3 separate regions of the Homo sapiens genome follow, and regions 2 and 3 are each linked to region 1. The links come from fine-mapping of genetic effects on gene expression. Tissue or cell type: whole blood. Region 1 holds a variant in brackets; each other region holds the start of a gene. All regions are shown on one strand. Distances are from middle to middle.

The links. PIP is the estimated chance that this variant, and not a neighbour inherited with it, causes the effect.
Region 2: DHRS7 starts here. The variant in region 1 is fine-mapped to the expression of DHRS7 in whole blood (TOPMed, PIP above 0.99).
Region 3: it holds the start of RTN1, and the variant in region 1 is fine-mapped to the expression of RTN1 in whole blood (TOPMed, PIP above 0.99).

Annotation. Positions count from the first base shown.
Region 1 is chr14:59,767,942-59,776,051 of GRCh38, forward strand. The region is part of intron 1 of RTN1 (reticulon 1); the gene reads right to left. Among named protein-coding and RNA genes, the nearest start is that of RTN1, 99 kb to the right of the region's middle. The variant A/T (reference allele first, on the strand shown) is at 4,550.
Region 2 is chr14:60,161,305-60,169,414 of GRCh38, forward strand. It overlaps DHRS7 (dehydrogenase/reductase 7), which reads right to left and starts at 4,094. Exons shown (of 7, transcript NM_016029.4): 1 at 3,873-4,094. The coding sequence starts at 4,005. It also overlaps the pseudogene SCOCP1. RefSeq lists enhancers at 3,558-3,617, 3,808-3,857 and a silencer at 4,058-4,327.
Region 3 is chr14:59,867,585-59,875,694 of GRCh38, forward strand. It overlaps RTN1 (reticulon 1), which reads right to left and starts at 3,192. Exons shown (of 9, transcript NM_021136.3): 1 at 2,806-3,192. The coding sequence starts at 3,046. RefSeq lists a silencer at 3,101-3,200.

The DNA.
Region 1 (8,110 bases):
AATCGTACTGAACACTGGTTTACCTTGCATTATAGTCACACTATCTGTCAGTGACTACTTGATATATTAGATGAATGAAGTTAAATAACAACACTGAAAACTATCAAGTTTGTTATATTGTTATTAGGTTTGGCTTGTTTTCATAATTCTTATGGCATTACCAAATGTCTACTTTAGAATTTCCACTTATTTACTAATTGATATGATTGAAATTGGGAGATACTTGAGGGAAAGAATGGTCCTATTATCTCTGTATTCCTAGCACAGTACCTAGCACTTAATAAGAGTTCAATACATTTTATTGAATGAGCACATTTACAAAGTACAACTTGATAAGTGTTTTTTAAAAAATTCCCTATAAATGACATTATCTGGTTATAGACTTTTCTTTGGCAACACAAAGACAGGAATTTGTTATCTTTTAAGATAGCTCTTCTAAGGATGTGGTAATGATCCAGTGACCGAAATCAGGATTTAGATACTCTTCTCTGCCCTTGTTTGGGCCAGGCAACTGGAGGTAACTGGGGTGTGACTCTACTCCTAGAATGTTGAATGCATCCTGGCTCTTGATCTGGTCGTTGCTACCACAGAGCCCTGGATTGTGTGTAGAAGGCTAAACGTCCTCTGCACCTTCACTCCCCACTCCAGTTTCTACCCTATCAATGACTCAGGGTTGGAAAGAGGGGAGGCTTAGCCCTGGGATAACCTTATTAGAATCTTGCCACTAACATGCTAATATGGTTCTGTTCTTTTCGTTTTATTTAACTCCATGTGTCTCGCTGTTAAAAAAAAATTATACTGGCTAATACTAAGGATGACAATAGCTACATTTATTTAACATTTCTATATGCTAAGCACTCTGCTAATAGCAGAGTATATGAGTTAACTCATTTAATCTTTAAAATGACCCTATAAGACAGGCAATATTATTCCCATTTTGTAGTTGAGGAAATTGAGAATTAGAGAAAAGTCAGAGACTTGAACAAGGTATTACTTTTCTAGGTGACCAATCACCTCAGGTTGCCCAGGACCAAAGGATTCTGTAGGATGTAGGACTTTCAGTGCTTAAACTGGGAGTATCCTGGACAAAGTAGGATGAGTTAGTCATCCTATAAGTAGCTGAAGAAGAATTCAAGACTACGTCATTGAATTCTAAAGCAGTTGCTCTTAATCATTATGTTATACTGCTTGATTTTTAAAAAAGTGTTCATTACTAAAAAGAATGAAAGTTCTCTCTAGGGCATCTAGTAAATGTTAACTGAAAAGTATGATAGAAAGTCTTTTACATGAGGTCATGTTATTCTGCATTGCAATTTCTGTTAGGGTACTTTTCAAGATACTATTAGCATATGCACTTTGAGAGAGATGCTTTTTGGTTTGGCACCTGAATAAAGTATCAATGCATAGCAAGCATTTCTGAGGCTTAAAGTGCTAGTTACACAATATGAATATAAAAACATTTACCACTAAGCCTCATAATAAATGACATATATTTTTCATGGATACTTTCCCCAGCAATGAGTTGTTTTGCCTCTAGAATTCCAGAATAAATCCTGAGAACTATGTTGGAAACCCTGAAGGAGCAAACGCTGCTCCTTGTAAAACCAGACCCACAGCAGAAGAATCTGAGAAAGTAGAAAACTGAAATAGTCTTATAAGACCTGCCATGCAGATTTTGTTTTGCATTAAGAGTAAACTGAAACAGAATTAAGATAAAAAGGGTTATTTCTCTTTGCCTTTATCACGTAACAGTCTACCCAATTCCTGACAACATCAACTCACCTTGATTGCAAGGTGAGTAAGGCAGTCTGCTGCCCTCCAGGAGTTTACAGTACATTGTCGACAGCTGTGATGAAAGACAATGAACAAAAGATACAGGAAGGAGAAAGTGCTGTGAGAATACAAGTGAGGGAGTGTCTTTTCTTACTTGTGGGACAAGGAAGAATTTCCCAGAGGAACTGGTGTTTTATGGATGGATAGAATGGCAAAAGGAGATAAGGAACCCTACCTTTCCCAGGCAGAGAACATGGAATGAGCAAAGCCATGGGAAGTCTGACTCTGAAGAAAACCAGGACTGTCACGTATAGTTGACACTACATATGGGAACATAATAAAATAAATAAACCCAAAGCCAAAAAGAACATAGAACTTAGGGGCCAGGCGTGGTGGCTCATGCCTGTAATCCCAGCACTTTGGGAGGCCGAGGTGGGCAGATGACCTGAAGCCAGGAGTTTGAGACCAGCCTGGTCAACATGGCGAAACCCCGTATCTACTAAAAATACAAAAATTAGCTGGGCATGGTGCTGCACGCCTGTAATCCCAGCTACTTGGGAGGCTGAAGCAGGAGAATCGCTTGAACCTGGGAGGTAGAGGTTGCAGTGAGCCGAGATTGCACCATTGCACTCCAGCCTGGGGAACAAGAGTGAAACTCTGCCTCAAAAAAAAAAAAAAAAAAAAAAAAAAGAACATAGAACTTAGGATTTCAAAGACTAATGCATGATTTCATTTTGTTTAGAAATTTGGACTTTGGAAATGCATCAGATTTGCAGTAAGGCCAGTTCAGTATTCTCAGAACTCTACTCATTTCTGTGGTCCTTTCCCAGAATTTATCATTAAGAACCTTAATGTTATGGTAAAGCTTTATATATGTATTTATGTGTATACGTATTTTTGCATTGTTTATTTTCAAAACCCAGAAATTCATTGGAATTAATATTGATCAAATTAATTACAGGTATTCAAAAATGAAAATAAACATTTAGATTTTTCAAACCAGGCTCATTTCCCTGAAGGCTTTACTAACCTTAAATACTTTATTTAAGAATTCTGTTGGCCGGGCGCAATGGCTCATGCCTGTAATCCCAGCACTTTGGGAGGCCGAGGCAGGTGGATCACGAGGTCAATACCAACCTAGCCAAGATGGTGAAACCCCATCTCTACTAAAAATACAAAAAAATTAGCCAGGCATGGTGGCCGGTGTCTGCAATCCCAGCTATAAAGGAGGCTGAGGCAGAGAATTGCTTGAACCCAAGAGGCAGAGTTGCAGTGAGCCGATATGGCGCCACTGCACTCCAGCCTGGGCGACAGAGTGAGACTCCGTCTCAAAAAAAAAAAAAAAATTCTGTAATGGCATGAGCTTTCCTTTCTATATCAAAGTCATCCCTCATCAACATGATCTGTATTTTGAACATGATCTGTATTACCTCTCTGTAGCCATGATGGACTTGTGAGGGCCCATTTATATTTTCACTCCCAGTAGATATTTTGATCTCATATTTGCAAAACAGTTAGATCAGACCAAGAAGCTACCTGTGGCCATGGAATCAAATGAAATCTCAGGCCTCAACAGGGGTCATCAGCTGACTTCTAACCCAATGGGTTGACTAAGAATAAGCAGAGTTGCTGGTAAACCCATAAGTCTGAACTGTGTGCAAGAAGTGCAGGTGTTGCTTTTTAAGGTGTCAACTTGGCTTCTTAACTTTTACAGAACCAAAACTCAAGTGCATCTGTGAGTACCACAGAGGTATGTGAATCATAAGCTTCCATAAAATGCCATGCCTAAATTAAGTCTTATCATCAAATATTATTTATTAAACTCCCACATCCCTCATACACATGGCAATGTGTGAGGCACATTAGCAACAGAAAACTGTATCTTCAGCCATGAAAATACTTCATAATAAATGCCAAATGGCTGCTGGAAGTCATAAAGATATTCTTTCACCGAGGCTGTATCCACCATAAATTTCAAATAAGCTGTGGAATGGAGTAACTCCTCCCATATGGTGAAATCCTCACAGAAGTGCTTCATGTTCAATTATCCTTATCAGTAAATAGAAGGCTTTTATGTCATCCCAATTATGCTTCCTGTGGATATGAGACAGCATTCCCAGAAGAATTACTCATGTATGGATTCATGCCATTTTGCATTGTGCTTTTAAGAGTTATTAGACAATTAGATACGCAGTAAGAAGAAATATCTGCATTTAAATTGTAAAATAACCATTTTATTTTAGACTCCACTATACTATTCATTATTTATTGCTAGTGCCTTTTGTAATTACTTCTGATAATATGTACACTAAAAAGGTTAATAAAAGCTGAACAAATAGAACATCTGAAGACAATAGCACTGAAATAACTTTTTATATCTGGAGACTGAGAATACATGCTACTGACTGAAAAATAAAGTTTTTAGTTAATCAACTGGTGTTCTGTCTACAGAATATTTTAAAAATCTGTTTGTTTTTATATAATGTAATTGGCTTTTAAAAAACAAAAGGATATTAATCAACATGTTGTTTATACATCTTTTAGAAAGATCCTGAAATGATTTTAAATTTGAATGTATTATGTTATCTCCCATAGATTTTTTTTCTACTTCTTAGTCACTTTTCTTTACAAATGTTCTAATTATATTCCAATTCCATTGTTCAATTCATGTGCAAGTACATTTAACTGCCTTTAGTGTGCTCAGCATGCTATTAGGTAATTTGAGTGCTACAGAGGAAGCAAAAGAAGGTCAAAACAACAGTTTACATCTTTCCGG[A/T]TTAAGTTACGTGACAGCCCAATTCCTTCCTCTTTCTCCCCAATATTAAAAAAAAAAAAACAGTGGAAATACAGTAAAAGGAAATTATTGCTCCTGGCTGATTCCTTAGCTAAAATGATGCTAAATCATAAAACTATGATGCATGTCTTTTAGGGTACTGCTTTTCTGCCTTAGGGAGAGCCTGGGCTGTAGAAAACACTCATTCCCCAAGATGAACGAGGCTCATAGTCTTTGTCCTTTATTGTTTAGCATCTAAGATTTTCAAACAAACACTTTAGGCAACCCATTAATAAAATCATGACTAGTCAAAAAAGGACTGGGTTTTTTTTTGGCCATTTTAGAGGTGGGAAATTTAGAGCTTAGAAAAAATTAAATGATGTAATACTTCTAAAATCCTGTGGCTGTGTCTCTAATCCCTGTGAATGAACTCCAGGTAAATGGCCCAGCCTGATAATAGCATCCTACTGTCCATCATTCTTTGCATTCTTTTAGATGAGGTTCAAATTATGCCTGGCTTATGCTGCATTCTGTCTCTAATGAACAAAGCTACAGTAAAACTGCGGAGCAATTAATTTCAGATGGTTTGCTATAAATTAATATAATGGCAAACTTGTTAATTAAGGATATAATTCCTTATCTTAAAGTAGTTCATTAAATATTTTATTTGAAGTAGCTTGTCATCTAAGAACCCCAAAGATAGTAAAATCTAAATCTATGAGACATATTTCAAAGGCTATTTGAACTCATTAGTTATGAAGTATTACCGTGCCCAGTTAGTTACATTAGAAAAAAAATTCTCATCATTTATTTCTTGTTATAGTGAAAATATTATCTTATTAAGTCTAATAAGGAAAAAACTGAAGATAGTACTATGTCATGTAATTCACTATTGTGGTTCCAAGAATAAATGAAGAAGTATTATATGTCTATTACATATCTTCTGATGACTTTAAAAAGTTAGTTTCTGATAAATAAATCAGCACAAAAAAGACAGAACTTATTTTTAACCACAGCAATATTTATTTACAGATGACAAATATTCTAATTTCCATTAAGCCTTTAAGTATTTTCTGAAAGCTCAATTTTCCATAATTGAGAATCAGATGCAGTCTTTCCATCAAGTTAAGAATCTCCTAAAGACAGTTTCCCCACCTGAGTTACCAACTCATAACTCTATATCTGAGATTTAATGGGGGAAAGAGCATGATGTTAAAAGTGTATGGGATACACTGCCTCTTTTCAATTATTCAAGAGCTGATTTATTTTGGCTTTTTTAAAGCTTACTGTCTTTCTTCTACCCTGGTTTCTATCATCTCATTAATTATCCTAAACAAGAGAAGATGAAAGAAAAAGACATGAGACAGAAAAAGAAATGAATATTCAACCCATCCTCTTCATTTTTGACCCTTTCAGAAAGGGAAACATAGTGACTAAAAGGAATATTTTAGATTATCTGGACATTTCATTCATATATGCCTTCTTTTCTCTCTTTCATGTGATTAGAGTTTATTATTTATCCATTATTGAAAAATTAGGATAAAACTGCATCCACGTTTGTGAAATAGAATGCCAGATTTACAAATTTGGGCAAGTATCCACATTATGGTAAAGAGTGTCTGTAGTGGACTGACAGTTCCACTTACATGAAAGAGATGCTTTAAGTAGCAGAATTAAAACACAGTGCAACTGCTGAGTTAATGATGGCACAGCTCTTTATTTTTCTATGGCAAAGAATGTGAATCTCTTACTAAACTGACTGTTTAACATGCTGAGTTTTTGTCCCCAAAACATTCTGCATTCCATTTGTAAGAACATGGACTCGACTCTGAATTAAAGTGTAAAAATGATTTATAATCTATACAACACTATAGATTATTATAATTTGGCTCTGAAGGGTTGGTTTCTTTCAACTTCTGCAGTCTCAGTTGTGTTGCCTGCTGTTCTAGCTGTGTCAACACGGGCAAAATTGAGAGCTGAAGTAATTAGGCAAATAATGCAGGCCAAAAATATGTCTGAAAGCTACTTGGCAATTTCACTCCACACTGATCAAAATCAGTTCAAAATAGTCCAGTTCTTTAATTTGCTTTCTCCTCCCTAAAAGCCTTAAATAAAAACACATGAAACCAATGAAATGTAAGTAATTTTCATTTGGAATCTCATATTTATATGTGTATTCTTAATGTTCCTTTCTAAATAAACCATTAACAGTGTGGATAAATCTAGTCCCAATAAGTCACCACTACTACAGTTGAGACTGAGGAGTGGTATGGTAAAATCAGCCAACAGCCAACTCACAACATCTCCCCAAGGAGACCACATGATCAGAACTCACTCTTCTGAACAATTTCTTGATGATTAAAGTACCGTCTTTTTCTCATTAAGTGAAGAGGCAAAAACATCCAAGTAACCACTTCTATAATGCTTGACTGAATTAACATTTCAGGGGAAAACTGTTGCAATAACAGACAGAAACCTCCTTTACATCTATGGCAGAGATGGCTTCCTAGCCACCTATTCATGCCACTCTGCCACATTATAAGGTATTACCGGGATGTAGTTGTCCAGCTAGGGAGTACATTTCCCAGCTCTCTTCTTAGATGGGGCCATGAAAACTGCTCTTGTAAAGGCGATAAGTTCCATCTCTAGACTGAGTTAAGAGGGGAGTATCTCAGACGTTTCTCATCTTCTGTCTACTGGCTGAATGTCACTGTCCCATAAAACCTTGAAAATCTCATATTAGAGATGGTACTAGAACCCAAACATGAAAGGACCCTGGGTCCCTGAATCACCTTTTGAGGCCAGCTGCCTGCTAATTAGGAACACAAATTCTAGACTTTATGTGAGAGTAAGAAATAAGCCTCTATTCTTTTTGAGGAATTATACATTTTTGACCTTTTTTTTTGTAGGAGCTAGAATTACTATAGCTTAGACAAATCCTATCCCAGTATTTTGAACACAATGCCTCTTTATTGGAAGCTTTCTTCACTGCATAATGGTGGTGATAGTTAATACTTATAAACTGCGTACCCTGTGTCATACACCGTCTAAATCCTCTACAAGTATCAGCTCACTCAATCCTTACAACAACCCCATGAGGCAGGTACTATTAATTATTCCCATTTAACAGATGAGAAAATTGAGGCATAGTGAGAGTAAGATCACATAGTAACAGAAATTGAACTGAAAAGCAAGATGATACATCTCCAGACCAAAAATAAAATACTCTGCACTCTGTATTTTATAAGTACATCTTCTATTCCATGTACATTTTAATACATTCTGCAGATAAGCAATAACAATTGTGGACTGGTCATCTGATTTGTTAAAAAGATCACTCTTTCATACAGCAGAAAGTTGTCTCTAATAACTGAAATAAAGAAGAGAAGCCATTTGAAGTCTAAACTGTTCCTCTCACAACCAGAAATAAGAAGTTTTAAATTAAGGGCAGCAGAGATCAATCCGTATAAATAATATCTAATAATTTAACAATGAAATAAAGATGATTCAATTAATGTCATATTATAATAAAGTTTAGGGCATTTCTAGCACTTTCCTAGTCAT
Region 2 (8,110 bases), 390 kb after region 1:
GACTCACTATATGAATACATACTAATCATATTACAAACATTTTGCATCCCTTTTGTGACCTAGACAGACATTTAAATTGTGTTGCAATTCTGCTTTCTTGTTTTACAAAAAGCTGTTTCAGGAAGAAAAGAAAAGAAATGAAACCTGTCTTCTAAATGACAATCCCTCACAGCTGTTAGGGAAGACAGCCATTATGTCTTCCCTAAGTCCTTTCATCTCTTACCTTCTCTAAGGCTAAATAAACCTATCCAATTTCTGCCACCTTCCCTCACATGACATGGTATCAGGTTTCCTCACTCTTCTGCTCACACCCACCTGCACCAATTCTAGTTGGTTAATGTTCCTCTTTATTAAAGGGAGCTGGCTAGGGCAGGACACAGGATTCGGTAGGGTCTGGACAGTGCAGAGCAGGATGAGATGTCAAAAATCACTTCCCTTGTCCCCCAGAAGGTAGGGTCTATGAGGGCCTGGACTGTGGCTGATTCAGTCACTGCAGTGTCCCCAGTGCCCCAGCACAGAGGCCGGCACATACAAGCAGCTAGTCAGGAGACATCTGTTGTTTGCAGTTGTTGCTTCAGACACTGAGGTCTACAAATGCAACCCAAGGTTGCCTGATCTTTTCTGGCAGCCACTTCACAGTTGACTCCTATTGAGGTTACTGTTAACAAAAACCTGAGTTTTGCTCACATGTGCTGCTGTTGAAATTTTTCCTCCTCTAGACTTGTGCCATGGATTTTTCTGGACCATTTTAATGTCTAAAATTAGTCACCCTTAAATTTCACCATATGTGGCTGGGCTTGGCAGTTCACATCTGTTATCCTAGCACTTTGAGAGGCCAAGGTGGAAGGATCACTTGAGGCCAGGAGTTCAAGACCAGCCTGGAACATAGTGAGAGCCTGTTTCTACAAAAAGTTTAAAAATATCCAGGTGTGGTGGTTTGCACCTGTAGTCCTAGCTACTGGGGAGGCTGAGGTGGGAGGATTGCCTGAGCCCAGGAGTTCGAGGCTGCAGTGAGCTATGATCATGCCACTGCACTCCAGGCTGGGTGACAAAGCAAGACCTTGTCTCTCTATTAAAAAAAAAAAAAAATCACCATGTGAGATATATGCTTGGAAATGCACAGAATTTCTCTAGACGGATACAGAGGAGGCAGGAAATGGTGGCTGCCTCGAGAGAAGCACACTAGGTAGCTAGGGCACAAGGGTCAGAGAAAGCTCTTTACTTTTTACTATATATCTTTTTGTATTTTTACTTTTGTATTATGTGAGTGTGCTATTTTTTTAAGTGACAAAAAATAATAAACCTACAGAGAAGTCAAGAAGGATTTTTTTTTCTTTTTTCATCTTGATAGAGTCTGCCCATCTCTCCAGTCTGAGCTGTTTTGGGAATCTGAGTCTATTTCAATTTTCCTTTAATCTTTTCTTCTTTCTCACTCCCTACCTCCACCAGGAGTCTTTTTAGACTTTTTTTTCCCCTAAAACTCTCCTGTGAAATGTTAATTCCACAGATATACTGTATATCATTTATGTACTGTACATATATCTGTGCTTTATACATAAAAGGAGTTCTATAAAGTTTACTCCTGCCAGGCGCAGTGGCTAATGCCTGTAATCCCAACACTTTGGGAGGCAGAGCGGGGTGGATCACCTGAGGTCAGGGGTTTGAGACTAGCCTGGCCAACATGGCGAAACCCCAGGTCTACTAAAAATACAAAACTTACCCATGCGTGGTGGCACGCACCTGTAATCCCAGCTACTAGGGAGGCTGAAGCAGGAGAATCACTTGAACCCAGGAGATAGAGGTTGCAGTGAGCCAAGATCATACCACTGCACTCCAGCCTGGCCAACAGAGCGAGACTCTGTCTCAAAAAAAAAAAGAAAAAGAAAAAAAGCTTACTCCTTAGTTAATAAGCATATGACTAAATAAGCATATGACTAAATTTTAAAATTAAGTTAAATGTTAAATTAAAATTTAAAAGTTATTAACTTCTAACTTTATAACTGTATTTGCTGAAAAACATTTTTATGGTTTTTGAGACAGTGTCTCACTATGCTGCCCAGGCTGGTCTTGAACTCCTGGGCTCAAATGACCCTCCTACCTTAGCCTCCAGAGTAGTTGGGATTGCAGGTACATGCCACCACGCCAGATTTTTGCTGAATAACTTTTATGTAACTTACTTAGATAAATAGCAATTTATCAAACTACATGTGCAAATTTGCAAATTATATAACTACATAATGATAACAATGTAATTAAATTTAAAATCCTTCAAACTGTTCTTTTCCGACAAAACACAACTGAAAATATTAAATGAATTTCTTAAAATTTTCAATGATCTTAACTTTTAACTTTTCCTTAATATGAGAAAATAACTTTTAACTTAGTAGCTTAGAGATATTCATTCAGATGTTGTCAATAATTTTGCTTTTTAGCACTTGACATAATTTGATGGGTTGAATATTTTTTGTAGGATTAAATAATAAAATATAATCTATTTTCGTTTAATTCTCCAAGTCCAAGTGAACACAAAAGCACTAAAGATCAAACACAAACAACGTCTGCAAGGCAGCCAATGGCAGCCAATAGGCACACATATTCCCCCGCTGAGGTGGAACAATCGATCAAGAGAAAGCCCTTGGTTAATGAAGTTGTGCAGTATTTGGGATTCCTGCTTTAAAAGGAGAAAGCCCAATCACTTGCCATAGTTTTGTAGCACTGCTGTGGCGTCCATGTTGTGTATTTTTCGTGAACTCAATGTCAGTGCTGCACATGCTATACCCAAGAAAACCCAACCAGAAAAATGAAATACTAAGGAATAATATTTTCTCGGGTGGGGTTAAGCTTTGGAGGGGCACAAACCACTGTATTACCAGATTTTTTTTTTTTTTTTTTTTTGTCCACAGGAACCAATTCTCACCTTGGGATCAATATCACCCCCCTCAACGCCCAACCCATAACGCCCCCCCCAAACATAGTCTATCTTTCGAGCTACTATCTCTTCCAAGCAAACTTTGTAACATGCTTTGAGTATTTTTATACCAGAAACTTGGTCCAGGGAAACCCCATTTCCCCAAGTCCTTAAGGATCCAAAGCCTAGCTTTCGGTAGGTCATTTAATTTCTCTGAACATCAGTTTCCCTATCTGGAAAATAAGATTAATAATGCCTACCTTGTAAGAGTTGTTGTAAAAGTTAAATGTTATGTGTGTAAAGCGCTGAGCCAACATACAGCAAATGTACACGATGTCAAATATTAAGCAAGACACAGATAAAGTGAGATAGGCAGTATGCCAATAATGATCTCGCTCCAGCAAACTGCCATTTTTAGTTCTTTCTAGTGTTTGACTAGAATGAGTAAGTAGGTGAAGGACTTCGGATTATCTCAGATTTTATTTCAAAACTGCAGGAGTGGGAAGTGGAGGACAGACTACTTCAGGTAGTAGAACGACCGGGCTTCCGGTACTTACAAAGGAGTTTCCCTTACAAACGCAGGGGGACGCTCACTGTTTCTCAAAGTATCGTCCTCTGAGACAACACCAGAATCCCTTGAGTCCTGCGTAAGATGTCAGAGTCCTCAGGAGCACCGCCGACTCCAGTGCTCTCTTAACAGTTTGGCACTCCCTGGAGAGGTTTCCTAGCCTGAATGGCAAGTCCATGCCATCTTCCGACCAGTACAGAAGACAAAGGGGCTTTTTAGCCCTCGCCTCTTCCTCCCCAACCCGCAGCCCCTGCGTAAGGGGCAGCCGGGCCTTCGGGAAGCTCCACGCAACCCACAAAGGACCCGGGATCACTGCAGAACCCCCGGAGACCCGGACACGCCTCGGCAGCTCCGAGCCCGGCCTCCCACTCGGGAGAGGCTTTGGCCGGTCCTCACCTGGGCGTCGTCCCTGCCACTCGGCCCATAGTAGCGTCAGGTCGCCGTCAGCCCTCAGGAAGCGCAGCAGCTGCACCAAGAGCAGGAGCAGCGCGCACAGCACCAGCAGCCACAGCAGCAGCTCCCAGTTCATTGCGGCCGCGCACGCCCAGCTCGGGGGGAAGAAGACGGCCCGCACCAGAGTCGCGTCGCTGCCCTGCGGGATCGCAGCGCCACCCCTTCGGCCAGCCCAGAGCCGCACTGCCCCGGCTCCGCCCAGGGAGCAGGCCGGGAGGAGGAGCGGCTCGGGCGCGCCGGGCTCAGCACTCGCGGCCCCACTCGCGGTCCTTGGGCGGCCCGCGCCCTCATGCGGCACACCCGGCGGGGCCGGCAGATTGCTTGAATTCAAGTGTCCGAGACCAGCCTGGGCAACATGAGGAAACCCTGTGTCTACCAAAAATAAATAAATAAAATTCCAGTATTTTTAAAGAAGCTGATTCAAACATAAGCTACATATTATACTACGTTATTTCCTCTCTGTACAGGGACACTATCAACGGCCAGGAGACAGATAGAATCATTCTTGCTTGGCCCCTCTTCTCCATTCCTATTCAGAAAGAACATCCCCTTTTCAAGCTTCAGTATCTTTTCATGAGGTCGAGAAAGTGCTGAAGAAAGACTGTGGCTATCACTCAAGACCCCACAAGCCAAGGCAATGGTCCCTCCATGGGGACAAGGTCCTTTTACAATTAGAGAAAAAAAGACTGAAGCCATGTGCTGTGTTGGCACCTTACAACCTGATTCTGACCACACACAAATTTACTCTGGTGTCTGTTTGGCAACCAAAGCCTAGGTTGGTACCAAATCCTCCCCTTACCCAAGCCATTATTCACATCCTAATGTAAACAGCAAATAAAAACAGAGAATGTAATGAAAACACCAAGGTCTTGCCTACTCTAATACACAAAAGAGTAAAATACTGTTTTTGATTAATTTCCGTTTGAAATGACCTTCAAAACATTTAATTGCTTCCCACTAAATACCTACATGTATTTGAGGCATCAATAGTAGCATCTTTCTTGTTTTCAAGCATTTGAAAGCAAGAGGGTTTTCCATTCACAAGCCTCAGAGGGACCCAGTTAGAGTGCATAGAAACTAGGCCATGTATGAGAACGACCTGTGGCCAAATGGAGAAAGTTCTGGGCGTTGATGCAGTAGAACTTTCATCCTCTTCATTTCCTAGAGTACTTTGTGTGCTCTGATGTCAAAGGCTCTTCCTTGGCTGAAACTAAATATGACTTTAAAACAGTCATGGAAATAAAAGAAGCAGTGACTTCCCTCCCCAGTGTTGTTTTCTTTTTCTAGTCTTGCCTGCCAAACTTTTGTTTTTCTTTAAATGTTTTGAAGAATGTTACTTGCAGTAATCAAATTTCCTTAAATAGCTCTTCCTTCTCTTTTTAAATCCTATTATAAACCCCCTACCTGCCTCCCCACCCTCATCCTTCTCTAAAAAGCTTTTTGGGGTTATCTGGACTCAGAGTCATCTTTCCCTAATCTCACCTCTTTTCACAATTACTTCTGAACTATATCTGAAATTGTTTTTTAATTATTTTCAGGGTTAATATAGTATTGTTCCAATGGAACTTTAGAATCCTTGAAATAAAGTAGCAAATCTGATGCTTCTTTTGAAGAGTCTGGAATACATAGCTTAGTGTTGACATGAGAAGCAATAAGCCCACGTTGATTGAATTCTCCTTTCCTTGAAATTTAAACCTCCTTGATAGAGAGTAGAAGGATAGTTACCAGAGGCTGAGAAGAGTAGTGGGAGGGTTGGGGGGGACGTGGAGATGGTTAACGGATACAAAAAATAGAAAGAATGAATAAGACCTAGTATTTGATAGTGCAATGGGGTGCCTATAGTCAATAATAATTTAGTTGTATGTTTTAAAACAACCAGAAGAGTATAATTGGATTGTTTGTAACATAAAGGATAAATGCTTGAGGGGGTGGATACCCCATTTACCATGATGTGATTATTACACATTGTATGCCTGTATCAAAGTATCTCATGTACTCCATAAATATATACACCTACTGTGTACCCACAAAAATTAAAAATTAAAATTCAATTTTTTAAAACCTCCTTGAAGTTCGGAAGTTAATGTTAAAATGAGAGTTGCTAGCATTTAATAAATCAATCTTCTCTAAGTATTATTAAAATGCTTTGAATAAAGTCCGAAAGTCTTTTCTATAACTGGTAACCTTCATTTTTAATTCCAGATGTAATAGAATGGTACCCTGCCTTCCCTCCTTTTAGTAATGGTCACTTTTGATGGTCTGGGGTCAGGCCCATTCATGGCAGCTAAGGCCCATTCATGGCAGCTAAGGCCCATTCAGGTCAGCTAAGATGAAGGCAGTTGTGCGTAAGCAATTGCCATCTTCCATAACAAAAGCATTATACAAAAATAACTTTAAAAATCCAGATCCTCCAAGATCGGCAGTCCCTAGGCGGGGGAAAAAAAGAGTGAGTGGAAACTGTGAGTGGAAACAGGGACTGAGGAATCTAGGGAGGGAATATTCTTCCTCAAGAACAATAAGGGGTTTGTGGTTTTTGATTGAGGATGTTTTCACATCCCTTAGATGCTTTTGGAAATGTGTTGGATGAACAGTGGCCATAGTGCCAGCTAGCCAGGGTGTCATCAGAGTGCTAACGATCTGGGCACTATGTAAAGACATACCCAACAAAGAATTGCCCTGCCCCAAAAGCTCACAGCACCCTTACTCAGAAATCCTGCAACCTGGCCACGGTGGAGAGGAGCTCTGCAATCTATTAGCAGCCTCCCTCCACAAGCTCTGGCTTACACCTGCCTGGCTGTACCCCAGCTACAAGCGTTCAGGTCATGGTCTAGTTTTCTGATATTCTTCAGGCAGACAAGGTCTTACCTAGAGTCTTATTTATAAGAAAATATAACTTACTTTCTTACCTTTAGTAATCTCATGGGATCCCTCAATAGGAATATCTCACTGCACTGTTCACCACATGCAGTTCCCCATATCAGTGCATTGATATTTTGTTTAGATTAGCCAATTTCCACAGTATCTTGGGTCTCTTAAACATAAGCAGTTTATAGCTCTCATTCTCTCTCCCTTAAATGCTCTGTTTCAAACTTCCCTTTATATATCTTGTCCATGATTTAGTAGTGGTGGTTGTTATTCTAATCTAGAACTTCAAACACTCATGCACACATGAGTACATGCAAAGCTGGTGAAATTTGAACGAGGTCTGTGGATTTTGCCAATACCAATTCCCTGGTTCTGTTATTGTTCTAAAATTATGTAAAATTTACTAGTGGGGAGAACGGGGTACAGAGTACACGTCTGTTCCATCTTTGCAACTTCCTGTGAATCTATAATCATTTTAAAGTAAAAAGTTAAAAAAATTAGGTTAAATTTCTTAAAATATGCAAATATTTTCTTAAAATTCTAAAACTGATCAATGCTTTTTCCTCTCCTTCTCTTTTTTCTCCCCTCTCCAGCCAGGACCAGCCTTGGAGATAAGCAGAGTGAACAGAAATTTATGGTCTCAGATTTAAGAAAAACAAAATTCTTTCTTGCTTCTTAAATCATACTCCATCCCATTGGCTTGCAAACATGCTGACACTCCTCATAATTTCACTCTTCATAAACCAAAGCATAAGGTCAGAGGAGAACTTGACATATTAGAACACTTAGGCATTGAAAGTGGTTAGTCTAACTAACCCATTGAAGTTTTGGAGAACCTGGGACTCAAATTTTGGAAGATGTGACAGATGATATGTTAACATACATTGCACCGAGGCTGAAGTGGGAGGATTGCTTGAGACTGCCTGGAAGGCAGAAGTTGCAGTGAGCCGAGACTGATGGTGTCACTGCACTCCAGCCTGGGCAACAGAGCAAGACCCTGTCTTAAAAAAACAAAACAAACAAACAAAAGAAACCAAAAAAAAAAAAAAAAAAAAAAAAAAAACCATTGCACCAAGTAACAGTCAACTTTTCAGCAGAGGTGAGTAGAGTTAATCAGTTAAGGCTTTCTGGAATACCAGCCCACCTCAAGGCCTTGTACATACTGTTCTCTCCACATAGAGGGATGGCCAGAAATCCCCCAGATGGATCCAACAATGCTCACCTCCTGTGTGCAAACCACCATGTATTTCCCTCCCAGGTTGTATCAGGGTTGATCACTGTAACCAGCAGAATGCTGCAGAAATGATGAGTGTGTG
Region 3 (8,110 bases), 100 kb after region 1:
CACTGCTGAGACATATTTTTGGAAATGTTCCTGGGATAATTTTAATTACCATCAATGTATAAAAATAAATAACAGAATATCTGTCCAGATGGCATGATTGGTGATGTTTTTCAGAAAAACAGTTATTAAAACATCAATATCTGTCTTATATTTCCATCTAAAAAAGAAACAAAATCTGTTTACAGTGCATCACACTCAAAGTCTAAGTTACTTCTTAGTTTGAGTTGAGTCCCAAAAAAGCACCACTCTTTTAAAAAAATAAAGCACTCTTCTGCCATGTGGGGACACAGTGAAAAGACAGCTGTGTGTGGACCAGGAAGCAGACCCTGACCAGACACCAAATCTACCTTGATCTTAGATTTCTCAGCTTCTAGCACTGTGAGAAAATAAATTTCTGTTTATAAGCCAAAAAAAAGTAAATTAAGAAATACAGTGTAAAGTAGTGTGCTTAATAGGCATCTCTGATACAATTGAGGGCTCACCTGCTAACTTTGCTTATAGCAATAGAACTGCCAAAATAACAGACCAGGAAGCTGGACAAGATTTGTTTGGAATTTTAAGATCTAGTTATTTATTTATACAGCATTTCTGGCGTTTGAGTCTCTTATAGCAGCACATCCGGTCTACTTAATAAGAAACACAGAGATTTAAGACATTAACCAATCAACAACTATATCAGAAATTCCTTCTAGCCACAATCATAAACTAAAAAATTTCTATATAAATATGCAAAATATGTGCTCCTTCCATCTTTCTTCATTCTTCTCCCATCCAAACGTAGTATCATGTTTGATTTTATTACTATATTTGTTGCCTAGGATAGAAAACCCCAAACACATTCAATAAAGCAAGGTATTTCTATAATAATAATACTAAAAATGCAAAATGCATTGTTATTTACTACAGCCACCTTTCTGTAACAATGCACTGTACATTTTGAAATTGCTAAAAGAGTAAATTTTAAACGCTTTTACCACAAAAAAAAAGTACATGAGATGATGGATTTGTTAGCTAATCATTTGACAATGCAGACATATGTCAAAACATCACACTGTACCCCACAAATATATATTCTAAGCATTTCCTATATAATAACTTTTGTGGATATGTTACTGAGCATGGGGCACTTAGCTTCCTTTTTCTAGTTCACATAATCTTAGTGGCACTAATAGGAGGTGGGTAATGTTTCATAAAGAAACAATTTACTTTGATTACAGTGGATAAAGATTCTGAACTATGAGCAGTCTATCCTCAACAAAGAATGGTAAAGACAAAAACTACCTTCCTTTGTCTATTATCATTTGCCATCTTCTTTTGCAATTATAAAGAGTTTTGTTTTCACTTGGATGCAGAAGTTGAAAGAGAGACTGAGCAGCCATTCTTAGATTTAAATCCTCCCCCACTCCTAGGGATATAATAATTAATATATAACCTTTGGCGTTTGGCGTTGGGGCTTTTGAGTACTTTTCTTTCTTTCTTTTTCTTTTTTCTTATATAGGGTCTCCACTTTTTCTCTTCCTTTCAGGATATTGACAATTTTTATTCAACGCATTCTCCAAACCTCTTTTCCCCAGCTCAGATCTTCTGTACCAGGGCAGTTAATTACGATTACCTTAGACATTCCACATAACCCTTAAGAGAAGCTTACGAAAAGGGGTTTCTTTAAATCAACCACCAAGAGCACACACACCAGTCCCACTCCCCTTCCCCTCCTCTGGGAGCACCCCCCACCCCAGGCCTTCTAGCTCTACATTGCCAAAACTACACAACTCCCACTCCACCATAGCAAAGCTTTCTCAGGAAAGAGCACCACACAGCATCCCCTTTCCTCTCCCTGGAAACAGCGTTAACCAGGCCGGCAGCCTCAAAGCGCGCTTCCTGGATCCTTTGACCAGGATGCGCCAGGGGCCTGGGCTCCCGCTGGACACTGGCGCGCTCAGACTTTGAATAGGGCGTCAGGCGAAGAATGGCCAAACCCAGGGCAATTTCCGGGGTGGGGGGGGGGGGGCGCTTAGACTGCTGGTAAACTGTACCACGTCCACTCACCACCACCCAAGCCCTCCAACCCACAGCCAGGCCCGCCGCACTTAGGACTTGAAGTTTCAATGCTCCCTGCAAGGTGGGGCCATCCGGGCAGCGGCGAAATACAGGTTTTGGGCGGGGGCAGCCACAGCACCCAACCCTCTTGCAAAGCTGTGCCTCCCGAATTAGGGACAAACTCCCTGGGATTTGTTTTCTGCGGGAGAAAAGGCGGAGGGATGTGGGGGGAGTAAGGTGTGGTGGCGATTCGTGGAGGGCAAGGGTAAGGGGCAGTTACAGCCACATCTCTGCCCTGGACAGAGCCGGGTCCAGGGGCCGCGGGCCTGCCCGCCGCTCGGTTGTCAGCATCTCCTGTAGCCGGCGCGCACACTGCGCGCAAACACGCCCCCCAAAATCCCCACAACCTGTCAAACGGGCCCTACAGCTCGGAGCCTCCTGGCAGGAGGGAGAAACTTGTACCCAGACTCGCCAGCAGCCAGAATGCTGCTGTTTGCCTATGAGAACAATTTTTAAAGCGGAAATAATCATGATAATGAAATAAAAGGATCAAAAGCATCTTGACTTTTTCTGAGCCTTTGGGAAAAATAAAATTGTTGTTTTCTACCAGCCCGCGAATATTCCCAGTCGCCCGTGGCGACGCGGGGGTGGGGTCGGCGCTCAAGGCAGAAAGCGCGAGGCAGGTGCCCAGGAGAGCCGCGCAGAAGGGGACTGACTGGGGGGCCCTGGTCCCCGACGCCATTTGAGGGGCAGCGGCGCCCGCCTTACCTGTGGATGCAGTTTCCATGGCAACGGGCGACTGCCGGGCGGGGCCCGAGCCGGCTTCCCGCGACGCCGCTTCCCGGGCCCTGGCGCCCAACCCCGGGCTGGGCTCCCCAGCCTGCGGCGCCGGCGTGGCCCCTTTCGGCGTCACCGCTTCGTTCTCCCCCTCCCCCCGGTGCCTGAGCCACTGGGACCCGGGGCCGGCCAGCGGCAGCAGCTCGTCCTGCGGATCCCCCGGCGCGGCCATGGCTGGCGGTCCCCCGGCGCGGCGACGGCGGCTTGGCTGGGCAGAGGCTCGGTGGCTGCGCGGGCGCTCCCTGCTGCTGTCCCCGGAGGGACTCGGCGCTCAGGGAAGCTGCGGTGTCTCAGCGTCGCCGCCGCCTCTGCTGCAACTCCGCCGAGCCGCTGCCTGCCGCTCTTCCCGCTTCAGCTCCTCCTTCTCCCCCCTCCTCTTCCTCCGGCCCCGCCGCGGCCGCTGCCTGCGCTCCTCCTCCTACTCCACTCGCTGCTGCCGCCGCTGCTTCGCTATTCCCAATCCTGTTATTACGCAGGTGAAAATGGCCTGCTTGGTCCGGGTCCTCCTGGGCACGTCAGCCCCCAACCTGCAAATGGCAGGCCCCGGTTAGGGGATGTGCCAAATCCACTCGAATCTTCCTCTCGTTTGGGGAGGAAAAAAAAGGAAGAACCAGCAAGTAGCAGCAGCCACCAGCAGCGTCGCCTTCCCAACTGAGAAAGTTAAGCCCCGACTGGTGTCCTGGGTCCCGAGGCAAAGAGGGAAAGCTAGAGAACTCAGGGCCACAGTTCTGAGAGTGACCAGTATGAGTTGTGGAGGGGACACAGGTCTGAACGGGGAAGGGGTGGAGATGGGTTCTGATGGCAGATGGAGACCAGGGAAGCTGCAACCCCGCGGTTAAATCCTGCGTTTCCAGAATGGGCCTGAAAATAGTGGAGTAAAGAAATGAGTTATCAGGACAGCCTCCAAAAAAAGCTTAACAGATCTCACCCTGACCAGCCCTGAGGGCAAACAGGGTGTCAATAGGCAAGGACAAAAGCTGTACATTTGCTTTCAGAAACACTGAGCCAAGGCCATCCTAATCATAAGCTGTCTGTGCAGTCCGTTGTATTTCAGAATTTGGACATTCCATGAAGCTTGCATCTTTTTCTTTACAGTTCACTGTGATAAAATGGAAGATAGTCAGCAAATAAACCCAAACTCAGAGGAGGAAAGTGACTTGCCTTATCATATGTTGTGCCCATACGAAGACCCATCTTTTCAAATGTCTTGTGTTTTATTGGTTCCCAAGTTGTTTATATAATAAAATAATGTGCCTTTAAAAACTAAGATTCACCACAACACACAGGGTGAAGGAATAGGTTTTTCTGCTGTTTCTTCTCTAGGAAAGGTGGGCGCAGACGGTACCGCACACACTGTGAGACTGTGGGACTCTTGGCCACCATGCGCATCTTGAGGATTTCATACCTGTCCATTGGTATATTCAAAGGCCAACTTCAGGACCATTCAGGTGCTCCTCAATAATGCTAAAATGAAAAAGCCCAGAGTCTGCCTAATCTTTTGTTCTGCTAGTGCACTAATGTTCAAAAGATGACAATAAATTAGAGAAAAATCATTCACTAAACAATAAATATGGCCTCCTGAAGCCAGATATCCCTGGAAATCTGATGGTCACCAAAATTTTACATTTTTGACATACTCAAAATTATGTCTCATGATGGAAATATTCACTATCTAGATTGTGGTTATAGCTTCACAGGTGCAAACATATGTCAAAACTTATTGTTTACTGTAAATATGAACAATTTAATGTGTTGTCAGTTATAACTCAATAAATCTATAAAAATAATCTCATCCAAAAACAACAAAATAATTGGTTATCATGAATCATAATGATTTTTAAACATCTTTCCATGGGAAAACAAGAGTGTATTTAAAAAACCGTTAAGTTGAAAAGCTTATTCCACTGCTGTATTTCCATGGAGCTTAATCCTGTCTTGTAATTAGAGGGCACTTGTAAGTTTTTTCAAATCTATTACTTAGTATTCCCTAAAGCATCAGAAATACTAGATGGGAATTTCTCATGGTTTTATTACTGATAACAAGACAAGAACATAGACAATTCTAATGATATAACCTTAAAGTGGTTATTGATGAATACTAATATTTGAGAATTGCTATGCAAAGGAGTTACATACAAAATAATATGAAGTATATTCTTTTGTTTCTCTGAGAAACATGAATGAAAGTCATCATTAAAAAACTGGGAGACCTAAGCAAGCCTCTGTGTTTCCTTATGATTAATAGATAGGAAGTTTGGGGATATGATTCTAATTATTTGTCAATTTCTTTCATACTAATCAATACTCTCATTGAGAATGTGTGAAGGAAATAGCCAGTTAAATCTATTTAGAGTGTAGTTGTTAAAGGAAATTGAACATTATTGACAGTTCCATTTTGATAAAGTATTCTATTTTACACTGCTGAAAAGAGATGAGCACAAGATTTCAGTGTTAGCAATTTTCATTACTAACTTTCCTTATTAGACTCCACCTTTGGATGTATAAAAATTATCTATTTGGGGGAAGAAATTTTCAGGTTTATGCTATGACTTGAAATGATTCATGTTTATTAATATTATTTATTTTGCACCGCTCTGAACTGACAAAGCTTGACTAATTTGAAGATTTATGGGCAAAACACACAGTCGGCAATGGGATTCTGGGGCTTACATAGTTGCTCTAAGTTACGAATTACTCTAAAATGCTTTTCAGACACAGAGAAAATAGGATTGTCACTTTTAAAAGGTTCTTAGCAAGAAGAGTTGAGACAAAAGAACTGTCACGTTTTGTTTTCAGCTTTTGTTTTTTGGAAAAGAAGTTTTGTTCATCATTTGAAAAGAAGAAATGAGGAGCATTTATTTAGCACTAGCTTCTTAACTTAGTCCAAACCATATATCATGGGGAAACACGGTGTGGGGACATGCAGGAAGAGCGCCACAAGTAACAAGCTTTAACCAAGATGAAATTCTTTCCAGCCTCAATATTAAAGTTACCTAACATCTCTACAACCCAGGTTCCTCAACTGTAACCTGGAGATTTTTTTTAAAATTTTTGTGGGTGGGTACATAGTAGGTGTATATATTTATGGGGTATATGAGATATTTTAATACAGGCATACAATGAATAATAATCATATCATGGTAAATAAGGTATCCATCACCTCAAGCTTTTATCCTTTCTTTGTGTTACAAACAATCCGATTATAATCTTTTTGTTGTTTTGAAATATAAAATAAATTATTGTTGACTGTAGGTGCCCCATTGTGCCAGTGAATACTAGATCTTATTCACTCGTATCTAACTATATTTTTATATCTACCATTAACTGTCCCACCTCCATGCCCCTCAGGCCCCTGCCAGCCTCCCAGCACTACACTTCTTGGCCTCTGGGAAACCGTTCTACTCTCTATCTCCATGAATTCAACTGTTTTAATTTTAATTTACCACACATAAGTGAGAACATAAGAAGTTTGTCTTTCTGTGCTTGGCTTATATCACTTAACAGATGTCCTCCAGTTCCATCCATGTTGTGCAAATGACAGGATCTCATTCTTTTTTATGACTGAATAATAGTCCATTGTGTATATGTACCACATTTTCTTTATCCATTTGTCTCTTGATGAACACATGGGTTGCTTCCAAATTTTGGCTAGTGTGAATAATATAGTGCTGTGATAAACGTTGGAGTGCAGATATCTCTTCAATATACTTTTGCTTTCTTTTGGGTATATACCCAACAAACAAACAAAAACAAGAAAACATTGAAACACTGGGGAAACTCTCCAGGATATTGGTTTGGGCAAGCATTTCTAGAGTAATGCCCCATAAGCACAGGCAACCAAAGCAAAAATGGACAAATGGGATCACATCAAGTTAAAAATCTTCTGCACAGCAAAAGAAACAACTAAGTGAAGAGACAACCCACAGAATAAGAGAATAAAATTGCAAATTATCCATCTGACAAGGGATTAATAACCATAATATATAAAAAACTGGGATTGCTGGATCATATGGTAGCTCTAGTTTTTTTAATTGGAGTCAGATGACATCTCATTGTAGTTCTGATTTGCATTTCTCTAATGATCAATGATATTGAGCACCTTTTCATATGTCTGTTTGCTATTTATTTGTATGTCTTCTTTTGAGTAATGTCTATTTAGATATTTTGCCCATTTTTAATTGGATCATTATATTTTTTCTTAATAGAGCTATTTGAGCTCGTTATATATTATGGTTATTAATCCCTTGTCAGATGGATAATTTGCAATTTTTTTCTCTTATTCTGTGGGTTGTCTCTTCACTTAGTTGTTTCTTTTGCTGTGCAGAAGATTTTTAACTTGATGTGATCCCATTTGTCCATTTTTGCTTTGGTTGCCTGTGCTTATGGGGTATTACTCTAGAAATCTTTGCCCAGACCAATATCCTTGAGACTTTCCCCAATGTTTCAATGTTTTCTTGTTTTTGTTTGTTTGTTTGTTTGAGACTGAGTCTTGGTCTGTCACCCAGGGTGGAGTGCAGTGGCGTGATCTTGGCTCACTGCAACCTCCACCTCCCAGGCTCAAGCAAATCTCTTACCTCTGCCTCTCGAGTAGCTGGGATTACAGGTGCCTGCCACCATGCCTGGCTAATTTTTGTGTTTTTAGTAGAGACGAGGTTTCACTATGTTGGCCAGGCTGGTCTTGAACTCCTGACCTCAAGTGATCCGCCCATCTCCGCCTCCCAAAGTGCTGGGATTACAGGTATGAGCCACCACATCTATTTGGCCCCCAGTGTTTTCTTTTAATGGTTTCCTAGCTTGAGGTCTTCAGTATAAGTCTTTCATCTATTTTGATTTGATTTTTGTATACAACAAGAGTTAGGGGTCTAGTTTCATTCTTTTGCATATGAATGTAATGTTGTCCCAGAACTATTTTTATTAAAGAGACTGTCCTTTCCCCAGTGTGTGTTCTTGGCACCTTTTTCAAAAATGAATTCACTGCAGATTAATGGATTTGTTTCTGGCTTCTCTACTCTGTTCCATTGGTCTATTTTTTTTTATGCCAGTACCATGCTGGCATGGTTTTGGTTACTATAGCTCTGTAGTACAATTCGAAGTAGGTAATGTGATTCTTCCAGTTTTGTTCTTTTTGCTCAGGGTGGCTTTTGCTATTCTGGGTCTTTTATGGTTCCACATAAATTTTAGGATTATTTTTCCTATTTCTGTGATGAGTATCATTGGTATTTTGATAGATATTTGA